Regions from separate parts of the Homo sapiens genome. Here region 1 is linked to region 2. Evidence: fine-mapped expression QTL. Tissue or cell type: skeletal muscle. Region 2 holds a variant in brackets; the other region holds the start of a gene. All regions are shown on one strand. Distances are between the middles of the regions.

Region 1 (8,141 bases), 23 kb before region 2:
TCTCTACTAAAAATACAAAATTAGCTGGGCGTGGTGGCACATGCCTGTAATCCCAGCTACTCAGGAGGCTGAGGCAGAAGAATCGCTTGAACCCGGGAGGCGGAGGTTGTAGTGAGCCAAGATCGCGCCATTGCAGTCCAGCCTGGACAACGAGCAAAACTCCGTCTCAAAAAAAAAAAAAAAAAAAAAAGAAAAGACCTACTGGGCTGCATTCCCAGACAGTTAAGGCATTTTAAGTCACAAGACGAGATAGGAGGTCGGCAGAAGATACAGGTCATAGGCCGGGCACGGTGGCTCACGCCTGTAATCCCAGCACTTTGGGAGGCCAAGGCAGGTGGATCACGAGGTCAGGAGTTCGAGACCAGCCTGACCAACATGGTGAAACCCTGTCTCTACTAAAAATACAAAAATTAGCTGGGCGTGGTGGCGCGTGCCTGTAGTCCCAGCTACTCAGGAGGCTGAGGCAGAAGAATTGCTTGAACCTGGGAGGTGGAGGTTGCAGTGAGCTGAGATTGCACCACTGCACTCCAGCCTGGGCGAGAGTGAGACTCTGTCTCAAAAAAAAAAAAAAAAAAAAAAAAAAAGACACAGGTCATAAAGACCTTGCTGGTGAAACAGGTTGCAGTAGCCTGCCAAAACCCACCAAAACCAAGATGGCGATGAGAGTGACCTCTGGTTGTCCTCACTGCTACACTCCCACCAGCACCATGACAGTTTACAAATGCCATGGCAATGTCAGGAGGTTACCCTATATGGTCTAAAAAGGGGAGGCATGAATAATCCACCCCTTGTTTAGCATATAATGAAGAAATAACCACAAAAATGGGCAATCAGCAGCCCTCTGGGCTGCTCTGCCTATGGAGTAGCCATTCTTTATTCCTTTACCTAATAAACTTGCTTTCATTTTATGGACTCGCCTTGAATTCTTTCTTGTGTGAGGTTCAAGAACCCTCTCTTGTGGTCTGGATTGGGACCCCAGTAACACCGAGATTTTTCTTTCACAGGACTTAAGTAACTAAAATACTCTCAGAAAAGAAAGCAAGGCTATTAAACAGGTGAAATAAATGCTCAGAGCATTCTATAGTAGTGGATAAGTCCTCTTGCAAGAATACATGAATAGACATTTCTTAGTGAAATAGAACAAATCCACAGAGCTGTCTTTTCTAGACAGGTCCATGTTTCAGTTCAAATCCTGACACTTCATAGCTCTTGATAGCTCTTTGTTTCCACCTTTCCTATAAAACTCTTTCCGTATATCATCCCTATATCATGAGTATAGAAGATTAAGTTAAAAAGTGTTGGATTTGCAGTCATTTCAAAGTTATAGAAAGTCATCAGATGGAGCATTCTAAAAAACTACAGATGTCCAGCCTTGGGAAAGAATCTGGGACCTGGGAAGTGACAGTTTTAGAGCCATAACAGTATTAATAATGACATGTATAACAGCTTCAAAAACATTTTGATGTATTTTATCTTATTTGATCCTTTTAACCTGTGGGGTAAGTAGGACGTCTAGTCTTGCCTTGCTTTATAGGCCGGAGGTCCTCAAACTTTAGCTTGCATCAAAACGGCTGGAAGGTTTGTTGCTGTGCCCCACACCCAATTTTCTGAGACTGTAGGTCTGAGGTGAGGCCTGAAAATTTGCATTTCTAACTTATTCCCAGGATGGTGGTCCAGGAACAGTTCTTGGCCATTTTTTAGTCTTTGTGAAGCTGGCTGGATTGTCTTAGTCATGAATTATAGTTCTGCATTGCCCTCAGAATAAAATCTAAATTAGTTGGAATGGCACACTGATCCTGTATGCTGACGCCTATTTACCTCTCCAGCCATTCTGCAGAACTAGTAGTTCTTGACGGAAGCTGTATTCGTTTGCCAGGGCTACCATAATAAAAGTAAACAGATATTTATTTTCTCAGAGATCTTGAGGCTAGAAGTCTAAGATCAAGAGGCCAGCAGGGTTGGCTTCTTCCTAGACCTTGGCTTGTAGATGGCTACTCTCTTGCTGTATCCTCACATGGCCTTTCCCCTGTGTGCACACATCCTTGGTGTCTGTGTGTCCAAATTTCCTCTTATAAATATGACACCAGTCAGACTGGATTAGGGCCCACCCTAATGGCCTCATTTTTACTTAATAATGTCTTTTTTTTTTTTTTTTTAAAAGAGAGTCTTGCTCTGTCACCTAGGCTAGAGTGCAGTGGTGCGATCTCGGCTCACTGCAACCTCTGCCTCCCGGGTTCAAGCAATTCTCCTGCCTCAGCCTCCCGAGTAGCTGGAATTATAGGCACCCGCCACCGCGCCCAGCTAATTTTTCTATTTCCAGTAGAGACAGGGTTTCACCATGTTGGCAAGGCTGGTCTCCAACTCCTGATCTTGTGATCCACCTGCCTTGGCCTCCCAAAGTGCTGGGATTACAGGCGTGAGCCACTGCACCTAGCGTACTTAATCAGGTCTTACGATCATTCTGAGGTACTAGGAGTGAGGGCTTCAACATATGAATGTTGGGGAGATGAAATTCAGCCCATAAACTGGGTGTGGTGGCTCACGCCTGTAATCCCAGCACTTTGGGAGGCTGACGCAGGTGGATCATGAGGTCAGGAGTTCAAGACCAGCCTGGCCAACATGGTGAAACCTTGTCTCTACTAAAGATAACAAACAAACAAACAAAAAAATAGCTGGGTGTAGTGGGGTGCACTTGTAATCCCAGCTACTTGGGAGGCTGAATCGTTTGAACCTGGGAGGCGGAGGTTGCCACTGCATTCCAGCTTGGGCGACAGGGTGAGACTCCATCTCAAAAAAAAAAAAAAAAAAAAAATTCAGCCCATAACAGAAGCCATTTCTTCCCTCTGGCATCATTTGCATATACTGCATATATCGTAGCTTGGACCAATCATGTTAACTCATTTGGACAAAACCATATTTTTGTGATGTAGATGGAGAGGTTGTATCACCTTGTTATAGCCTCATACAACCCAATGTGGAGTTACTGTCCACTGTTTTAGCACCCCCATACCACTCTGTTCATGTTACTTTCATGGTTCTTACCAAGTAACATGAACTTACCCCAACACATTATGGCGTTTGGTGGCTTAACATATCTGTCTCCTGATGCTCAAAAAAACCCATTTTTACTCAGTGTATCCTCATCCTTAGTACTTAGCACAGTATCAGGCTCATCAGAGTTGACAGTCCATAAATACCCGTTGAAATGGATGATCTAATTTTAATCCAAACAGGAGAGGGAAGAACAAACCACACCATGTGCAAATATAATTTCCAGGTATACTGCTACATTAGGTTGAATCAAAAGAAATTAGTGTTTGGTATTTTCAAAATACTAAGCAGAAAACCTCAGGAATTTTACAAAACATATCATCAAAATCTAAAACTATTAATTTCTCATAGTCTTGCTATTCATTTTCTGTTCAACAAATATTTGACACTTACGTGTAGGGCACTATTTAGTACTAAGAGTCCTGGAGCTTGCAAATGTGAACGAGCAAGCTTTGCTTCCTGCTATTAAAGAGATTAATAGTCAAAAGTGGTGACTAGTCATCACTCGCATAATCGGTGAAAACATAAAAGGCGCCCAGTCCAACAGCTTTTCCCACATTCCTCCCCGCCACCCACCTCCAGAAGGAGTCTTGCTTGGTCACCCAGGCTCACTGCAACCTCCGCCTCCCGGGTTCAATCAATTCTTCTGCCTCAGCCTCCGGAGTAGCTGGGATTACAGGTGCACCCCACCATGCCCAGCTAATTTTTGTATTTTCAGTAGAAATGGGGTTTCACCATGTTGGTCAGGCTGGTCTTGAACTCCTGACCTCGTGATCCACCCACTTTGGCCTTCCAAAGTGCTAGGATTACAGGTGTAAGCCACTGAGCCTGGCAGTCACACATTCTTTCAACTGTTTGTTTCCACCTTTATTATAAAGTATTTATAAAGAGGGATCCAGAGTCCCTCACCTGGTTCAGAATCTTGGGTGACCCTTGGCAGGTCACTAACCCTGTGAGCCACAGCCACATTTGTAAAAGTGGGATAATAGTCACACATTGTGAGGTTGTTCACAGTGTTGGCACATGGTAAGGGCTAAGACACTTGATTAGCATAATATTCAAAATTAGAAATTGTACACTATTGTACTCTCTTTCAAAAGGCAAACAGCCTAAAACTGTTTGGAAAAAACAGCTTGTACAGTATATTGTACACTTCCTGTGATAGACTAGTGGACTGATACACCCACTAATGCACAGCAGTAATAGTCCACCTCTTTACACATTATGCATGTTAAGTGACAAAAAAACTCACTTTAAAAGGCCAAATGATAAAAACATCAGCCTTGAGGCTCTTCGATATAGAGTAAATCATATCTTCCTGCAAACCAAGGATTAGTATCATAATACCTGAAAGAGGAAAACTTAATTCTAACATTCAAGAAAATTGGCGGCAGGAATACACCTCGGCTTCTAGTAGTCGGTAGTTTAAAATACAGGAGGAAAAAAAAAAAGTTTGACCCCGACGTGATTCGAACACGCAGCCTTCTGATCTGGAGTCAGACGCGCTACCGTTGCGCCACGAGGTCCTGCTGGGCTGTGGCTCGCGCAGTTTCTTAGGACACCAGTAAATGGCGTTTCTTCCAGGGGTACCAGTCTTTCTCTTCCATTTACTCTCTGCCCCTCCACCCAGTATCTGTCGGACCAGGAGACCGATTCCTTCAGCGTCCAAACTTTCCTGACTGCTAGTCCTCTAACCAAGGCTGGGACGTAACCAGCGGAAGCGGGAGAACGGGGCTTCCCGTTTAGTCGGGTCTCCAGGATCAAAGGAAATTGGCCCTTCCTTTTCTTTACCAAATGATTTCCGTTCTTACCCGCCCTGCCCCCGCCCCGTTAGTCGCGAGACTCCGCCCTCTCTCCCCTCCCCCAACAGGTTCCGCGCGCTGAGTTCGCGACCTCGAGTTGTAATCTGGCGGGGCGCCACTAAGCCGGCGCAGGCCTTCGCAAGATGGCGGCTGGAGGCAAGGGCAGAGGCCTTCAGAGCGTTTTCTTTTTCCCTTTCCTCCCTTCCTGCAAACAATGTAAGGCATTTTCTCTCAGGGGAGGCTTTCACTTCATGGTGGGCATTAAGGTTAAAAGTCACCATTTTGAAGACAGGGTTGTGCACTTAAGGGAGCTGGTTTAGCATATTATGTTTAACAGCAGTGTCCTGTCATTGAATGATACAGAAAATAATAACTGTCGCCAAAAAAGTGCAGCTACACACCTCCCCGTCGGGGAATTGAACCCCGGTCTCCCGCGTGACAGGCGGGGATACTAACCACTATACTAACGAGGAGTCGTTAGGCTGTGTATTTTCTCAGACAGCCCTTCAAGGAGCAGTAAGATCCTTCCAGCGCTCCGTAACCTTCCGCCTGCCCCCGGGAAGTACGAAAGTCCGGTCTCTTGGAGCCGCTGCTTAGGCTTATTGTCCTCTCTGGGCGCTTTGTATTCTTGATGTTGGTGGGAAGAATAAAAGGTGTGGAATATGTGAAGGAAACGCGCTTCCCATGTTAGTGCTAGAGAAGTGTGTGAAAATAGTTTTTCCGAGGCTCTTGACGCGTTCTAAATGATTTAGGTTGCCGTCCTGAGTTTTTTTTTTTTAACTGACCACTGGTATGTGACTTGCGGCTGAGCCTTCCCCTTACAAATTTATACTTTCACTCTGAAGTTCAAGTTCAAGGATAGCATATGGCTGCCAGATGTCGGGGACAGTTAGGGTTGCCACGGTCTCGTGCCTCTTCAAACAATTCATAAGTCTTTTTTTTTTGAGAGGAAGTCTCGCTCTGTCCCCTAGGCTGGAGTGCAGTGTTGCGATCTGGGCTCACTACAACCTCCACCTCCAAGGCTCAAGTGATTCTCCCGCCTCAGCCTCTCGAGTGGCTGGGATTACAGGCGCGCACCACCATGCCTGGCTAATTTTTGTATTTTACTAGAGACGCGGGGTGTGTGTGTGTGTGTGGGGGGGGGGAGGGTTCACCATGTTGGCCAGACTGGTCTCGAACTCGTGACCTTTAGTGATCCACCTGCCTCGGCCTCCCAAAGTGCTGGGATTTACAGGCGTGAGCCACCGCGCCCGGCCAATTCACACACTTTTGTAACACAAAAGCGCCCAATGAAATGACCAGCTGCGGGCAAATGAAATTTTATCAAAATTTTATCAGCCGACTTCTGTTTCGCTCTCTGTAGGTGGCTACAGTTTAACTGGAAGTGACAAACGTAAGTATGTGAATGGCTAAATAATAATGCGTTTAAATAATTCAAAACCAGGATGTGCCACTGATTAAACATATGGGTTAGGAAAGTGCACTAATCGGATAATTTGATAATTTGTGTCATCCTAAACCCGTTCATAGACAGGATGAACCCTCTTCCCAGGGATACTAAGAGAGCCTTATATGTAAACTTTTTTTTTTGAGACGGAGTTTCACTCTTGTTGCCCAGGCTGGAGTGCAGTGGTGCGATCTTGGCTCACTACCACCTCCGTCCCCCGGGTTCAAGCGATTCTCCTGTCTCAGCCTCCCGAGTAGCTGGGATTACAGGTGCCCACAAACACGCCCGTTCAATTTGTGTTTCTAGTAGAGATGGTAATTCACCACGTTGGTCAGGCTGGTCTCGAACTCCTGACCTAAGGTGATCCACCCACCTCGGCCTCCCAAAGTGCTGGGATTACAGGCGTGAGCCACCGCGCCTGGCTATAAACTTTTGATTTTCTCTAAAGGAGTGTGTTTATAGGCACAGATAAACTGACATGATTGAAAGCGTTTCATTATAGAACTTAAACTTACGTGTCTCGTCTCCGACCCAACCAATCAGGACTCCCAACTCACTGACCCCTACCCAACAAATTATCCTTAAAGATAATAAAAATAACAACAACAACAACAACAACAACAAAAACCCCACATATGTGTCTTAAGGAATCCCTTGTTTCTAGTGTGCTACGAATTAATGTATTATCCATCATAAATTATAAGGTATTTTTCATCTGATGGAAGGGATAATTTTTTTAATGCAGATATTAAACAAATGGCAGTTTCTGAGGCTTGTTTTGGCTTTTCTTTCTTTTTTGCTCTCATTATTATTATTATTATTTGAGACGGAGTCTTGCTCTGTCGCCCAGGCAGGAGTGCAGTGGCACGCTCTCGGCTCACTGCAACCTCCGCCTTCTGGGTTCGGGCGATTCCTCTGCCTTAGCCTCCCGAGTAGCTGGAACTACAGGCGCACGCCACCACTCCCTTTTGTATTTTTAGTAGAGTCGGGGGTTTCACCATGTTAGTCAGGCTGGTCTCAAACTCCTGACCTCAAGTGATCCACCCGCCTCGGCCTCAAGCGGCCGCGCTCAGCCCTTTTTCACTCTCTCTCTCTTTTCTTTTTTTGAGACGCAGTTTTGCTCTTGTTGCCCAGGTTGGAGTGCAATGGCACAATCTTGGCTCACTGCAACGTCTGCCTCCCGAGTTCAAGCGATTCTCCTGCCTCAGTCTCCCAAGTAGCTGGATTACAGGCATGTGCCACCACAGCCAGCTAATTTTGTATTTCTAGTAGAGACAGTTTCACCATGTTGGTCAGGCTGATCTAGAACTCCTGACCTCAGGTGATTCACCCGCCTCGGCCTCCCAAAGTGCTGGGATTACAGGCGTGAGCCACCGCGCCCGGCCCCTGTTTCACTCTTAACTACACCGAAAGCCTCAATACAAACTCTCAGTGTGTGGGAGCCTCCTTCCACTTTGATCCTCCAAAAACTTTTGCCAGGGCCAAAGGGCACTGTGATAGCTATGATGACGTCCTTTTCCTAGTAAAATCGAAGGGACTTCCCCAAGTCTCTCAGTTCGTAGAGCTATGGGGCAGTGAACCCAGTTCTCCTGAATCAACTGTTTGCCCCGTGTTCTGCACTCTCGGGAAAAGCAGCTTCATCTCTTCCTTTAGAAGAGACATCCTTTCCACTGAAGCTCTCGTAAAGCTATGCCAGTGCTCACACACGTGTTGTTACTGCTCCTTTTTCATCCCTGGTGAAAGTAAGAGGCAGTCTGAGTCAGTGAGATCAGGGAGCAGGGAACGCAGCACTTGCTGTCCATCATCCGAAAATGGAAAGGAAAAGAGAGGGCAATTAACCT
Region 2 (8,191 bases):
TAAATTCGTTTCTTGGGGCTTGGCACATTGCCACTTGAACAAATGGATTCTATTAACAAGGAGTATGGAGCAATGATTTTGGGGTACACAACTCATGGCGCCTGCCAAAACATGCGCTTTAGATTTTGATAGATATCGTCAAGTTGTTCTCCGCAGGGGTTGAGCCAGTTTACACTCCCACCAGCAATATGTGAGAGCATCTGTTTCTCTAACCTTCACCCACATGGTGTTATCAAAATTTTTATCTGTGCCAATCTGGTATTTTAAATTTGCATTTTCTTTATTATGGAAAGATAGAGCATACTTTCATATGTTTAAAAGCCATTTGAAATTTCTAAGAACTGTCTGTTCATATCCTCTGCCCATTTTTTTTTTTTCAGTGAATTACTGGTCTTTTTCTTATCAATCCATAGGAATACAAATAGTTGTTCCAAGCTTTTCATGCCTTTTGAGTTTGTTTCTGGTGTTGTTACTAAGCAGAATTTAAAACATGTATTTATATTTAGCTTCTTTCGTTTTATTGCATCTATATTTTGCATCATGCTTAGAAAGGCTTTCCCAGATTGTAAAATAATTCTCCCATATTTTCTTGTCTTACTTTCAAGTTTTCATTTTTTTCACATGTAAGTCTTGATCTATCTGAAATTTATTTTGGTGTAAGATTTGAGATATGAATAAAATCTAATATTGTTTATTGAATAGCTCATCTTTTCCCCACTGGTGGAAACTCTAAAGTGTTCCTGATATTCAGAGACTATTTCCTATGAAACTTTTAACACTCTAGTAAATTCTAAGGAAAGAAACTCAAGGACAAAGCAGTCAGGATGGAATTTTATTTTATTTTTTTGTTGTTGTTGAGACAGAGTTTTGCTCTTTTTGCCCAAGCTGGAGTGCAGTGGCATGATCTCGGCTCACTACAACCTCCGCCTCCCGGGTTCAAGCGATTCTCCTGCCTCAGCCTCCCAAGTAGCTGGGATTACAGGCGCCTGCCACCACGCCTGGCTAATTTTTTTTTTTTTTTGGTATTTTTACTAGAGATGGGGTTTCACCATGTTGGCCAGGATGGTCTCGATCTCTTGACCTCGTGATCCGCCTGCCTCGGCCTCCCAAAGTGCTGGGATTATAGGCATGAGCCACTGCGCCCGGCCGGATGGAATTTTAATTTGTAGTTTCATGTCTTGCATTTCCTCAATTTATAATAACGCTATCTTTTATTAAGCATTTATGTGTTAAGCATAATACCACAGAAGACTGTATAAAAATACAGAGAGTTTATAGAATAATGGTAAAATGAACACCTGTGTACCTGTTATCCAGATGAACATGTAAAACTTTGCCAGTGACTTGAAAATCCTCTGCGTGCTCTACTTTAATCATCATCTTCTTCTTCCTCCTCAAGAGATAACCACTATCCTGATTTTTTGATAATTATTTCTTGCTTTGCTTTATAGTTTTACCACCTATATGTATCCTTAAATATTAGATTGTTTATTTTTTGTATTTGATGAGAACAAAAAATATCTTTGTTGTTGTTATTTTGAGAGTCTTGATCTGTTGCTCAGGCTGGAGTGTAGTGGCACAGTCACATCTCACTGCAGCCTTGACCTCCCAGGCTTCAGCAGTCCTCCCACCTCAGCTCCTCAATTAGCTGGGACTACAGGCATGCACCGTCATGCCCGGCTAATTTTTGTATTTTCTTTTTTGGTAGAGACAGGGTTGCGCCACGTTGCCCAGGCTAGTCTTGAACTCCTGGACTCAAGTGATCTGCCTGCCTCAGCCTCCCAAAGTGCTAGGATTACAGGTGTGAGCCATGGCTCCTGGCCTTATATTGCTTATTTTTGACAACTGAGTGGCAAGCCCAACCATTGCAGCAGGCTCTCAAAAGATAAGCTCTGGGTCACGTTCAGTGGCAGCGTTCCTGAGAGAATGCAAGAGCTCCTTTTGGGAAGTCTGCGGTCAGGGTCAAGAGTGAGTTCTGGGAAACACAGGATATATCACAGCTGGGACATCTGGCAGGGCTGCAGTTTGGGTCAGGTAATGGATATCTGCGGAAACATAGTCAAGAAGTGGGAGACTCTCTATCTGCAGCTCCCAAGCTCGCCATGGTTTCTTACCTACTTTCAAGAAGAAATCAAAGCAAACCCCTTCTATGGGGTAAGGTGAATTTCCTCAGTTCGTGAAGACAGCAGGTCATGGTGGGTGTGTTAGTCTTCTATTGCCACATAATAAATTATCACCAATGCAGCAGCTTAAAACAACATACGTTTATTGTCTCATAGTTTTTACAGGTGAGGAGCCTGGCACATTTTAGCTGGTTCCTCTCCTCAAGGTCTCATTAGGCTGAAATCAAGACATTGGTTGGCTGCCTCCTCCTCTGGAGGCTCCCCTAGGGAAAGATTCATTTCCAAGGTAGCTCAAGTTGTTAGCAGAGTTCATTTCCTTGCAGGTGCAGCACTGGAGGCTCCTCCTCTCCTCTCCTCCCCTCCCCTCCCCTCCCCTTCCCCCTCCCTCCCTCCCTCCCTCCCTCTCTCTCTCTCTTTCTTTCTTTCTTTCTTTTTTAACAGAGTTTCTCTCTGTTGCCCAGGCTGGAGTGCAATGGCACAGTCTGGGCTCACAGCAACCTCCACCTCCTGGGTTCAAGCGATTCTCCTGCCTTAGCCTCCCAAGTACTTGGGATTACAGGCATCTGCCAACATGCCTGGCTAATTTTTGTATTTTCAGTAGAGACGGGGTTTCACCATGTTGGCCAGGCTGGTCTTGAACTCCTGACCTCAAGTGATCTGCCCGCTTGGCCTCCCAAAGTATTGGGATTACAGGCGTGAGCCACTGTGCCTGGCCTTCACTTTCTTTCTGGCTGTCAGTGGGGACTGCTGCCAGCTCGTAGAGGCTGCTCTCAGGTGGCCCCCTCCACTCAGCATTGGAGACTCTTCCTTATGATGAGTCTCCCTTATGTTGAGTCTCCCTTGTGCTTAGAATCTCTCTGGCTTTCTCTTCTGCTACCAGCCAGAGAAAATGCTCTTAAAATGCCTTTAAAGGGCTCATGTGATTAAGTCAGGTTTACCAGGATAATCCTTTGTCTTAAAGTCAACTGATTAGTCGCCTTAATTACATCTACAAAACTTTGTGTCATGCAAGGTGACATAAACCTACTCATAACTAGGGGGTGGAGATTATGGAGGTCATTTTAGAATTCTGCTTGTCATGGTGAGGAGAGCAGAAACTCCATTGGTACATAGTCAAGATGTGCCAAGCACAGACAAAATCTAGGTCAGATTCACCAGGCCTCAAAAAGATGGTCCAATGGCAAAGGGTATCTTCGAGATGGCTCCTGTGATGTCTGCATCTTGTGTCACATTGCTCCCATCTGGATTGACTGTCCTCTGCATCTGACACATAGCTGTCATTCAAGGACCTCTTTTTATCATCCTCCTGAGGACCCTTTTTATTTCTCTCGTGTTGGATTGCTTCTTTCTTGCATCTCATTTCTTCCTCTTTACTCTTAATTCACACTCTCTCTTGCTTTCGTCTTATTCTGGTGGAGTCAATCTTCTTGAAATTTCTTGAGAATGGGTACACGGAAGTTAACTTTTTCAGACCTTTTATGTCTAAAAAACTTTTTTTTTTCTTTTTCTGTTTTTTTTTTTTTTT[G/TG]AGACGGAGTCTCACTCTGCCACCTGGCTGGAATGCAGTGGTGCGATCTTGGCTCACTGCAACCTCCACCTCCTGGGTTCAAGTGATTCTCCTGCCTCAGCCTCCCAAGTAATTGGGATTACAGTCACCCACCACCACGCCTGGCTAATTTTTTTTGTATTTTTAGTAGAGACTGGGTTTCGCCATGTTGGCCAGGCTGGTTTTGAACTCCTGACCTCAGGCAATCTGCCCACCTTGGCCTCCCAAAGTGCTGGGATTACAGGTGTGGGCCACTGTGCCCAGCCAAAAAAAACCTTTATATTTTTATTTTTAGAGATAGGGTCTTGCTCTGTCACCCAGGATGGGATGCAGTGATGTGATCATAGTTTATGGTAACCTTGAGCTCCTAGGCTCAAGGGATCCTCCTGCCGCAGCCTCCCAAGCAGCTAGGATGACAGGTGTGAGCCACCATGCCTGGATTCAATTTTATGTTTATACTTGATTGATAGCTTAGCTGAGAATATAATTCTAGTTGGAAGTTATTAGCCCTCAAAATTTTGAAGGCATCATTTCACTTTCATTGTGCTGGATTGTCTGTTGTCCAGCTATACCTCTCCATTATCCCTTCTAGAGTCCGCTCTGCATTAAAGAAGAGAAACCTGTAGTTACATGTGACAGAATCCCCTCCTTCATTTGATTCCAAGTTGGAGTTTGCCAATGAGAGGCACTTGTGTGAGAAGGAAAGCAGAAAAGAAAAACCATTATTCAACAGAGGCAGTTGAAGGCAGACACATGGGCTGAAGGCAAAATCTTGAGAGTTTCCTGTTTTGGTGCTGTCAGCAGCTGGGATTGAAGGCAGTGTCTTGCCTTAGATTGCTGAGATTTTTCCATGGCTTGCAGGTGAAGTTATGTGAATCACTGACTTCTACTGGCTGCTCTCCTGACCATCACATCCTCAACACTTAGTTTTATTTTATTTTATTTTTTTTTGAGATAGAGTCTCACTCTGTTGCCCAGGCTGGAGTGCAGTGGTGCGATCTCGGCTCTCTGCAACCTCCGCCTCCCGGGTTCAAGTGATTCTTCCACCTCAGCCCCCTCAGTAGCTGGGCTTATAGGTGCATGCCACCACGCCTGGCTAATTTTTGTATTTTTAGTAGAGACGCGGTTTCACCATGGTGGCCAGGCTGGTCTCAAACTTCTGACCTCGTGATCTGCCCGCCTCGGCCTCCCAAAGTGCTGGGATTACAGCTGTGAGCCACTGCGCCTGGCATTATATTTTTATTTTTTATTTTTATTTTTTAATTCTTCATGGTTACAAAATGCCTGCTGCAACTGCAAACATCACATCCGTGCATGATGTCTAAATTAGGAAAAAGAGAGTACAGACGCTCTTCTTCATGCATTCGTCTTATTTTATGAGGACCATAAATTGTTTTAAAGTTAGACCAGAGTGATTGGGCAAATTTATATACCTACCTGATGCCTACCCTAAATCACAGCAAAAGGAAAGGGAAACCATCAGGATTAATTAGCTGGGGCTGGGGGAAGAGCATATTTCTGCCTATGCCTGCACAAGTTGAAGCTCTTTGAGCAAGAAATAATGGGAAATGGCTGTCAAGAAGGCAACCAACTCTGTCTGCCATGTTCCTCATGTAAGGATACCGCATGTAACATGGCAGACTGTTGATCAGTGGACAACCAGTAGGAAAAATAAGATTTTAAAAAGTGTTCTAAATGCCTCACAATTATGTAATGTCATTTAATCCATCAGTAGGAGAGATGACGAGGATGACATTTTATGAGAATGAAATATCTGACAGGAATTAGCAAAAGTTTCAGAGTTTGGCCTTAGGAATAAAGTGAAGACAAAAGAATAAGAATTTGATTAAATTCACAGTTAGAACCAGATATATTACATTAATATTAATAGCAAAGGAAGCAAAGAAAGAAAATATATCCAAAGGGTAAAATGTATATTTGAAGTGTTTTGGGATTTCTACTCATGAAAGAAATGCTTCTCAGTTGGGGGAAAAGTCAGCAGACCTCTCTATGTAGCTGACGAGTTTAGCTAGTCCTGCTACTTTTGATGAATTATTAGAAGACTCACCCACTTAGAAAAAGTGTGTGCATTTAAAACAAATCATTAATAATGAAATTGATTGTAGCTTGTGAAAAACAGAACAAACAGATCTCTGTACTTCTGCTTGAAATATTAGTTCCTGAGTTTTGAAGAGATTGTGCCAGTCAGGTTATTAGTCCCATGTAACAAAACTTTGGCTAGTTAAAGCAGAAATAGGCCGGGTGCAGTGACTCACGCCTGTAATCCCAGCACTTTGAGAGGCTGAGGTGGGCGGATCAGGAGGTCAGGAGATCAAGGCCATCCTGGCTAACACGGTGAAATCCCATCTCTACTAAAAATACAAAAAATTAGCCAGGCGTGGTGGTGCGTGCCTGTAGTCCCAGCTACTCGGGAGGCTGAGGCAGGAGAGTTGCTTGAACCCAGGAGGAGGAGCTTGCAGTGAGCCGAGATCGCGCCACTGGACTCCAGCCTGGGTGACAGAGTGAGACTCCACATCAAAAAAAAAAAAAAAAAAAAAAGAGAGAAATACAATTTATTGAGGTCTAACTTAAAGCTCACAGAAACTCTGGGAGGGCCAGAATTAGGCTTGGCAGCTTGACAGTCAGAAACAAATGACTTGGTGGATACAGCAAAGATTTCATTACAGTGTCTGTCACTGAAGACCCTGTTAGAACACCCTCCCCTCCACTGCTGTCTGCTGTGAAGACCTTCATGGGAATGGCACCTCCACTGGAGCGCTCCCTGGAAGCATGGGTTCTGTGCACTGCCTGTTTTCTCATACTGTTCTTCTGCAAATTGAATCTTCATATGGGTGTATCTGGGTAGTAAGGCTTGTGCCACAAGTCAGCATGCCAGCTGCAAGAAGGGCTGAGAAGTCCAGTTTCTGATTTCCACCTTTGATGGTGAGACTTATAATGTGGAGAATTCCCCAGACATGGGAATTCTGAGCAAAAGATGCTGATATGATTTGGCTCTATGCCCTCACCCAAATCTCATCTTGAATTGTAATTCCCAATGTTGGGGGAGGGACCTGTTGGGAGCTGATTGGATCATGGGGGCAGTTTCCCCCCTTGCTATTCTCATCATAGTGGGTGAGTTCTCACAAGATTTGATGGTTTAAAAGTGTGTAGCACTTCCCCCTTTTCTCTCTCTCTCTCCTCTGCCATAGTAAGATGTGCTTCCTTCCCCTTCACCTGCCGTGATTGTAAGTTTCCTGAGGTCTAGTCATGCTTCCATACAGCCTGTGGAACTATGAGTCAATTAAACCTCTTTCTTCATAAATTACCCAGTCTCAGTTCTTTTTTTTTTTTGAGATAGGGTCTCACTCTGTCGCCCAGGCTGGAGTGCAGTGATGAGATCTTGGCACACTACAGCCTCTACCTCCAGGGCTCACGCGATCATCTTGCCTCAGCCTCCTGAGTAATTGGGACTACAGGCATGCATCATCATGCCCTGCTAATTTTTGTATTTTTTGTAGAGATGGGGTTGCGCTATGTTGCCCAGGCTGGTCTTGAACTCCTGGGCTCAAGCGATCCTCCCACCTTGGCCTCCCAAAGTGCGTGTGGGTAGTGGGTGATCAGGTAGTTCTTTATAGCAATGTGAGAATGGAACAGACTAATACAGCATCTGTGAATAGAACACATGTCAAATTGAGTAACAAACAGGCTTAAGAGCATGGAGTCAGGTATACCTTAGTTCAAGTCCAGCCCCATAGCTTCCCACCTGAGTCATTCTGGGTAACTTCTCTACCTTCGTAAGCCTGTTTCATCATTTGTAAAATATGTATGATAATAGTGGCTACATCACAGGGGTGCTGTTAAGATTAAATGAGATAGGCCAGGCACGGTGGCTCACATCTGTAATCTCAGCACTTTGGGAGATCAAGGCAGGTGGATCCGTTGAGTCCAGGAGTTTAAGACCAGTCTGAGCAACATGGTGTGACCATGTATCTACAAAAAATAAAAAAATTAGCTGGGTGTGGTGGCATGCACCTGTAGTCCCAGTTACTTGGGAGGCTGAGGCAGGAGGATCACTTGAGGCCATGAGTTCGAAGCTTCAGTGAGGAATGGTTGTGCCACCGCACTCTAGCCTGGGTGATAGAGACCCCGTGTAAAAAAAAAAAAATTAAATGAGATAAAGCATAAAGCACTTAACCTAGTGCTTGGCGTATGGTGAATAAGTCACTGATTACAAACTTATATTACTATTATTATTGATCTTCTTATTGGTATTGTTACTGGTGTTTATGTAGGACAATCAAAGCTGATGATATAAAATGTAACCATTATAGTACATTAGGTAGTTTTTGTCCCAGAAATTACAGTTTGGGAATTAAATTCAGAGCTCCCTTTTCTGGTTTAAAAAAGCCAAGAAGGATTAGTACTAATATTCTGATAATTTATAAATGCCTCTCTCATACTCACCATCTTCCTACATCTTCCTCCTGCTTTATCTGTTTTCCATTACAATCACAGAATGCCAGTT

Direction of the effects. Positions count from the first base shown, and alleles are read on the strand shown. Sizes are in standard deviations (SD) of each study's normalised expression.
As copies of TG replace G in region 2, the expression in skeletal muscle of the gene that starts at base 4,974 in region 1 goes up (moderate effect, 0.63 SD a copy in FUSION).

What was found. PIP is the estimated chance that this variant, and not a neighbour inherited with it, causes the effect.
Region 1: it holds the start of LINC02453, and the variant in region 2 is fine-mapped to the expression of LINC02453 in skeletal muscle (FUSION, PIP 0.95).

The regions. Positions count from the first base shown.
Region 1 is chr12:98,500,688-98,508,828 of GRCh38, reverse strand. LINC02453 (long intergenic non-protein coding RNA 2453) reads left to right here and starts at 4,974. Exons shown (of 4, transcript NR_038383.1): 1 at 4,974-5,069; 2 at 6,217-6,246. It overlaps TRD-GTC1-1 (tRNA-Asp (anticodon GTC) 1-1), which reads right to left and starts at 5,326; the gene lies at 5,255-5,326. It overlaps TRW-CCA4-1 (tRNA-Trp (anticodon CCA) 4-1), which reads right to left and starts at 4,577; the gene lies at 4,506-4,577. RefSeq lists enhancers at 1-460, 4,617-4,916, 4,927-5,236.
Region 2 is chr12:98,478,046-98,486,236 of GRCh38, reverse strand. LINC02453 (long intergenic non-protein coding RNA 2453) reads left to right here. Exons shown (of 4, transcript NR_038383.1): 4 at 1-693. Among named protein-coding and RNA genes, the nearest start is that of TRD-GTC1-1, 21 kb to the left of the region's middle. The variant G/TG (reference allele first, on the strand shown) is at 3,649.